2 linked regions of the Homo sapiens genome follow. The main gene of each other region encodes a partner of the protein of the gene in region 2 in a complex. Each region holds a gene or a part of one and is shown on either strand. Other genes may lie near its edges. A codon is read from its position in the direction of its gene.

Region 1 (3,600 bases), on a different chromosome or scaffold from region 2:
AGCTCAGTAGATACAGAATGAAATAACGATGTTGAGTGGAAAAAAGGTATACCAAAACAAGAGTATATACAATATGATTTCATTTATATAAAATTCTACATAGGCTGGGTACAGTGGCACATACCTGTAATCCCAGCACTTTGGGAGGCCAACGCAGGCGAATCACTTGAGGCCTGGGCAACATGGTGAAACCCTGCCTCTACAAAAAATACAAAAATTAGCTGGGCGTGGTGGTGTGACCCTGTAGTCTCAGCTACTTAGGAGGCTGAGGTGGGAGGATGGCTTGAGCCCAGAAAGCAGAGGTTGCAGTGAGCCGAAATCCCACCACTGCACTCCAGCCTGGGTGACAGAGCCAGACCCCGTCTTCAAAAATAAAATAAAATTTCTACATAGTCCCAGCTATTCAGGAGGCTGAGGTGAAAGGTTCACATGATCCCAGGAGTTTGAGGCCAGCCTAGGCAACATAGTAAGACCCTGTCTCTAAAATAAAATAAAATTCTACAAAATGCAGGGTTGGGGGCAAGCAGAAGGGAGGAAAAGAATATAGGAGAGAGGGAGGGACTACAAAGGAGCACAAGAAAACTTTTGGTGGTGACAGATATGTTCATATCTTGATTGCAGTGATTGTTTCACAGGTATAAATATATATGTCAAAACTCATCAAACTGTACCCTTAAAAATATGTGCAGTTTATTATATGCCAATTGCAACTCAATGAATCTGTGAACAATAACAACAAAAAGTACTCCTATACATATATAACCTGGAGTGGGGACAGCAATCTACTAATTTCCTAGGAAATTTTACTAAAGTGAAGTAATCAAGATGGTAGTGCCAGTGTGTACTGGTGATAACAAGGATCAGAAGGAATACCAGATAAAAATTATTCCTAAGGCACTGGAACCCAGAGAAGACAGAAATCTCTTGATAATCTAATGTAATATCAATCTCTTTTGATAAATAATATAGAGCCAAGTTCTGTAGTTCCCCAAGGAGAATACACCAGATTAAGACAAAGCAGTTAGAATATCATGAATTCCCATTAACTGATACTTGCAAAACTCTTCCATATACACACACATACATACGTATTTGTATATATTCACATGTATATAAACTTTTTACTATATGTGTATATATAATGTAAGTATGTGTGTGTGTGTGTATACTTAGTCTTATACAAAAATAGGATCATTCTATAAATTTTTTTTTTTTCTGAGACAGGGTCTTACTCTGTCACCCAGGCTGGAGTGCAGTGACACCATCTTAGCTTACTGCAGCCTTGATCTCCCAGGCTTAAGCAGTCCTCCCACAGCCTCCTGAGTAGCTGGGACTACACATGCATGCCACCACACACAGCTAATTTTTGTTTTTGAAAAACTGCTATTTATTTGACCAGAAAAACATTTTGGACTTAAGAAATGGCAATAACTGGCACATATACTAATTCAAAATATTTTCACAAAGCACCAAATAGAATAGTTCCCAATCTTTTCACTGAGAAACCTTTGAAAGAATGCCTAAAACTTAATCAGTTTACTTAGGTTTTTAATCAAGAAATCTAAAGCAGCCAATCAGAGTTTCTAATTACCATGAGATGACCAGGTTAACAACCTTGAGGTTGCAGGAGCTTTTAAAAGCTTTGTTTAGGCTGGGCTCAGTGGCTCATGCCCATAATCCTTGCACTTTGGGAAGCCGAGATGTGAGGATCACTTGAGGCCAGGAGTTTGAGACCAGCCTGGTCAATATAGTGAGACCCCATCTCTATAAAGATAAAATTAAATTAAATTTAAAAAAAAAAAAGCTTTGTTTAACCTACGCATTCTAACTGAGATTTGTTGACCTCAGGCTACTAATCACAGGTCCATGTGCCAGATACCTTGCACACACAAAATTGAGTAATAAGTATCATGTATAAAAGATAAAGACTATATGGTCCCTGTATATTTAAAAGGAATAATACCTAATTCTCATGGGTGAACAATTAGTGAGGGGCAAAGAGACAGACAGAAATTACTAACCCACAAGGGAGAACCAAGCAAGGTCAGTAGAAAAGAGAAAAGTCCTGTGCTCTGGGAATGCAGCAGAAAGGGCATTGGGAGGTTGCAGGGACCAGGCAGCAATCCAGGTCATACCAGGAACATGAGTGGATGTCAGTAAGTGTGGGAAGGAGCCTTCAAGGCTGAAAAAAACTAAACAAGCCAAGACACAGAGCCACAGGAGTACTGCCTGTTCAGAAGACAGTGAAGCATGTGTTCTGGGTAACACGATGTGAACTAAGAAGAGACATAAAACTCAGGAAAACCTCACCCAACGAGAGCCCAGAAACAACACTGGTCTGTATTTCTTAACAGCAATTCAACAGAGAATCTGAGGTGGCCTGCAAAACTAACAAGAGAGTAAATTATCTTGAAAGGGCAGGGGCACCACATGCTCTCTGTGGAGGTTCAGTAGCCAAGGATCACCCTGCAGCCCCTCCCCAACCCTACTGTGACACCCCAGACCCTTGGAATCAAATCCACTAGCAATAACCTTCCTTAATGGAAAATCTCTCCCCTCCCCAAATGTAAAACAAAAGATAAAAGCAAAGAAAACAAAACAAAAAGAGACCATCAGAGCAAGCTTTAGCCCTCATAACTCATCTATGCCCCACTGACAACAGGGTCTACTCCATTACTTAAACTGATTTGTAACACTGCTCCTACTACATCCTCCTCTTCAAAAAAAGTAAATAAACACCACACAAAATATAAACTTACCCCAAACAAAAGTCAGCATCAACCTAAGGATCCTACCGTAATGTTACTACGCTAACCCAGGATATTTTAATCTTCTTCCAAACCATTTACAAAAAAATTCCTCATCTGAGACCTCTGGAAGCGTTACAAATACTGTTACATTAGATTGTTCTTCTTGAGGTAGTTTTAAGTCTTGAAACAAAAAATTTACCTATTTTTCTACACCACTGCTAAGGGGTTAATTATTATAAAATGCCTACAACCAAAATCCCCATCCCCTTGATTCTCAAGCTATTAGAAATTTTTCCCTCATATCAAACAAATGGGAAACACACATAAAAAGATGAAAAGTCATGCAAAAATTTTTAAAAGGCCAGACACAGTGGCTTATACTGGTAATCCCAACACTTTGGGAGGCTGGGGTGGGTAGAATTGCCTGAGCTCAGTAGTTCGAGACCAGCCCGAGCAACATGGTGAAACACCGTCTCTCTAAAAATACAAAAATTAGCTGGGCATGGTGGCAGGCACCTGTGGTCCCAGCTATTTGGGAGGCTGAGGTGGAAGGATCGCTTAAGCCAGGAGGGTGGAAGTTGCAATGAGCTGTGAAGGTGCCACTGCTATGTAGCCTGGGCAACAGAGGAAGATTCTGTCTCAAAAATAAAAATAAAAATAAAAAACAAGCAAAAAAAAAAACCCACATAAAAAAGAAAGTGTATCATCATACGAACAGTCTAAACTTTGCCTAAGACAAAAAAAAGTTTACTTGGTTTACCCAAGGTACAGGCATGTTATAAATAAAGTACTCAAGAAATTAACATCTTATAAAAATAGTGAAAAAATTTTAGGTGGGAGCATAAAACTA
Region 2 (3,954 bases):
AGCTCGGTTTGAATCTCAGCTCTACCTTTATTAGCTGTGTGACTTCGGTTTCTTTAACTGTAAAATAGAAAGAATAGCACCTACTTCCCAGAGTTGTTGGGAAGGTTAAATGAATTAATATATGTAAAGCATTTTAGAACAGACTTGGTATATGTCCTATTATAAGCATATGCTTTTTTTGACACAGAGTCTCACTCTGTCACCCAGGTTGGAGCACAGTGGCACAATCACAGCTCACTGCAATCTCGACCTCCTGGGTTCGAGGGATCCTCCCACCTCAGCCTCCCAGGTGCTAGGATTACAGGCATAAGCCACCATGCTCAACCCATATGCTATATTTATTAAGCCTCATATCTCAATAGAAATATGAGCTTTAGGCTGGGCGTGGTGGCTAACGCCTGTAATCCCAACACTTTGGGAGGCCAAGGAGGGTGGATCACCTGAGGTCAGGAGTTCAAGACCAGCCTGGCCAAAATGGTGAAACCCCATCTCTATTAAAAATACAAAATATTAGCTGGGTGTGGTGGTGGGCGCCTGTAATCTCAGCTACTTGGGAGGCTGAGGCAGAAGAACTGCTTGAACCAGAGAGGCAGAGGTTGCAGTAAGCCGAGATCATGCCACTGCACTCCAGCTGGGTGACAGAGTGAGACTGTCTCAAAACAAAAAAATATGAGCTTCAGATTGCCTGAAACTGCCTCAAATGTAGGTCAGGCGACTCAAATCCTCACTTTTAATGAAAAAAGTAGATCTCTTCCCTCATCCTTTCCAATTCCTCTCCCCTTGCCCATGTATATTCTAAACTATAGACTCTACAAATATTTTATTGACAATTCGTATTACTATATATATATATATATAAACACATATTGACAATACATATTACATAGAACCTCTGGTCCCACTGTTGATACCTTAGCCTAGGACTAGATACTTAACCCTTCATACCTGAAATATTAAACAGCGTAAGTGGTCATCTTTTTCTGTGGGCTCTCCCTTCTAAAATCTTAACAGCAGTGGGTCAGATGACTAAGTTTCTATAAAACAGGCTTTCTTCATGAATCACTTAGTTGCTAAGAAATGTTAAGTGTTTCCCAGTATTCGCAGAGTTGATACAAACTTGGCCTGGCACTCCTGGTCCTTGATAATCCGGGCCTGCTTGCCTCTCTAACCAACCCATCCATTGAGCCATGCTGAAATGCCAAATGCTACACTCATTCTGCATCCACAATAACCCTTGAGATGCCCCCCTGCCAGGCATGCATTTCCTGTTTCTCTCTCCCTACCGAAATCCTTCACAAGTCAAGAACTACTTCTTTTCCACATGTTCCACAAGCAGTCCATATTGCACCCTTCTTCCTCTGACCCCTGTTGTCTCTTGTACCCTTATCCCCTCTGGTATGAATTAAAACATTTTTGCTACTGACAGACTTGCCCTATCCCATCTATGTTCACTGTTCCACAAAAGAAATCTCTGTTCCTTTTCAATAGGAACAATTTCTTATTTCTTTGCCACCCTCAAAACACTTAGCTTGGTATGGTCATATATCAGTTAACAACACGGATACATTTTTTTTTCTGAGACAGAGTCTCTCTCTGTCACCCAGACTGGCGTGCAGTGGCGCGATCTCAGCTCACTGCAACCTCGGCCTCCCAGGTTCAAGTGATTCTCCTGCCTCAGTCTCCCAAGTAGCTGGGACTACAGGCGCGCATCACCACGCCCAGCTGACTTTTGTATTTTTTTAGTAGAGACGGGATTTCACCACGTTGGCCAGGATGGTCTCGATCTCCTGACCTCGTGATCTACCTGCCTCAGCTTCCCAAAGTGCTGGGATTACAGGTGTGAGCCACCGCGCCCGGCTAACAGGGGTACATTTTAAGAAATGTGCTGTTAGGAAATTTGATTGTTTTGTGGGCATCATAGAATATACTTATGCAAACCGAGATGGTATAGCCTACAACATACCTAAGCCATGTGGTATAGCTATTATACTCTTAAGGGACCCCCATCATAAATGCAGTTCCTCATTGACTGAGACACTGTCATGCATCACGACTGTATTGACTGCTAGTAAGAACTCACACACAAGTTGAAGACCATAATTTCATTCTTACCTTCAATCTCATCCCTTCTGCATGGGTATCTTTTTGCCTTTCAGATCCTGCTAAATCCACCAGGTTGAGTAGGGAGGTCCGTATATTCACAATCTCATTACTTTTCTCCATTGACTCTATTGTAATTGTAAAGACGGCATGAGACCTAGACGATTCTCTGTTCATTGATGTTGATGCCACACGTCTATTCCTCCATCCTCCAGACAACACCTATGCAAAAGGAAAACATATTAAAAGAAATGAGAGGACCAGTTACAGTGGCTTATGCCTGTAATCCTAGCAGTTTGGGAGGCCATGTCTGGAGGATCACTTGTGGATAGGAATTCAAGACCAGCCTGACCTACATAGTGTGAGACCTCACCTCTACAAAAAATAATAATTTGCTATGTACAGTGGCAGGAACCTGTAGTCCTAGCTACTCGGGAGGCTGAGGTGGGAAGATCTCTTGAGCCCAGGAATTCAAGGCTGCAGTGAGCCATGATTGTGCCACTGCACTCCAGCCTGAGCAGCAGGGCAAGATCCTATCTTAAAAAAAAAAAAAAAAGGAAAAGAGAAAAAAAAAGGAACAAGAATAGGTACACTTAAAATGTAAAATAAGCACTTGAGAATCACTCATTTTATTATGAAAAATACTAACATACAGCTAATTATCTACTTTCATAGGGAAAAAGAAATATATTTACATAAAGCATATTTTCTATTTAGAACAGGGGTGAGGAGTATCTATTGCCTTCCATTGTTATCTAGCTTTATAAGATAAATTATATTATCCCAAGTTCCAAATGGTACACAACAGCCACCAAAATCAGTAGGAAATTTGTAAAGGGTGGTGAGAAAGATTACTGGTCCATTAAGGAATAAGCTGAAGTTATTTTCCTTTCCTTTGTGTTCCCTTTCCACATTACAGAAACAGAACAAACAGGAAATCAGAGCGCATAGGATCTAGAACTGGTTTTGCCACGCTTTATTTGTGTTAACCTAATGTAAATCACAAAACCTCTCTGAACCCATTTCTTTACCTAGAAAATGAGAATGTTGGACAGGAAAAATCTGTAAATTATCTTTAAGCCCAAAGTTTTGTAAGCTTTTGGTCTACAAAGTATTTTTTCCCTTCTATTCCCTATGGCAAGCAGGATACATGAAAGTTCAGAATGCAGGCTCTGGAATCAGATGCATATGAGTTCAAACCATGGCTCCACTATTTACTAGGCGAGGTCTGGGGCCAGCTGAACCTTTTCAAGCCTCAGCCTTCATATTTGTAAAATGGGAATATGGGTACCTATCCCATAGAACAGAACATATAAGTTTTAGGTGCATATGAATCATCTACAGATGTTGTTAAAATTCAGATTCAGATTCAGTGTGAGGTGGGGCCTGAGATTTTGCATTTCTAACAAGCTCTCAGGTGATGCTGATGTTCTGAGGACCACATTTTGGGTAGGAGGGTAACAGTATATATAGGGTAAAATGGGGAAATTAGTGTCTTTATCTCAAAGGGCATATTGAAAATTAAGTAAAATAATGTATACAAAAGAAGTTAGCACAGTGCTTGGCACCTTCACTCAATAAATCATAGCTGTTGGCAGGGCACGGTGGCTCACGCCTGTAATTCCAGCACTTTGGGAGGCCCAGGTGGGTGGATCATGAGGTCAGGAGACCGAGACCAGTCTGGCTAACACGGTGAAACCCCGTCTCCGCTAAAAATATAAAAAATTAGCCGGGTGTGGTGGCATGCACCTGTAGTCCCAGCTACTCGGGAGGCTGAGGCAGGAGAATCGCTTGAACCCGGGAGGTAGAAGTTGCAGTGAGCCAAGATCGGGCCATTCCGCTCCAGCCTGGGCA

The links.
Region 1: the proteins of KIF15 (region 2) and KIFBP are in contact, whole or in part, in a cryo-EM structure (PDB 6ZPH), measured with the Homo sapiens proteins. Residues at the interface, in NP_064627.1 of Homo sapiens: Leu187, Glu189, Ile191, Lys192, Lys193, Arg231 (codon at 2,271), Glu232 (codon at 2,268), Arg235 (codon at 2,259), Arg271 (codon at 2,151), Met280 (codon at 2,124), Arg281 (codon at 2,121), Leu282 (codon at 2,118), Lys283 (codon at 2,115), Glu284, Ala285, Gly286, Asn287, Asn289, Arg290, Leu292, Ser293, Gly296, Gln297, Ile299, Ala301, Val303, Asp304, Val305, Gly306, His312; in NP_056449.1 of Homo sapiens: Lys26, Tyr33, Lys36, Ile106, Glu109, Ile147, Ser150, Glu151, Glu153, Thr208, His209, Tyr212, Tyr213, Gln216, Gln219, His220, Phe224, Gln238, Glu248, Trp249, Ile251, Asn252, Thr255, Gln258, Phe259, Asn262, Tyr415, Val416, Thr417, Glu421.

What each region holds. Positions count from the first base shown.
Region 1 is NC_000010.11:68,991,803-68,995,402, reverse strand, and holds part of KIFBP (KIF-binding protein), read right to left. Parts: exon of another isoform or gene 3,535-3,600; intron 1-3,534. UniProt on the Homo sapiens protein: Activator of KIF1B plus-end-directed microtubule motor activity. Required for organization of axonal microtubules, and axonal outgrowth and maintenance during peripheral and central nervous system development.
Region 2 is NC_000003.12:44,792,585-44,796,538, reverse strand, and holds part of KIF15 (kinesin-like protein KIF15), read right to left. Parts: intron 2,323-3,954; coding exon 2,113-2,322; intron 1-2,112. UniProt on the Homo sapiens protein: Plus-end directed kinesin-like motor enzyme involved in mitotic spindle assembly.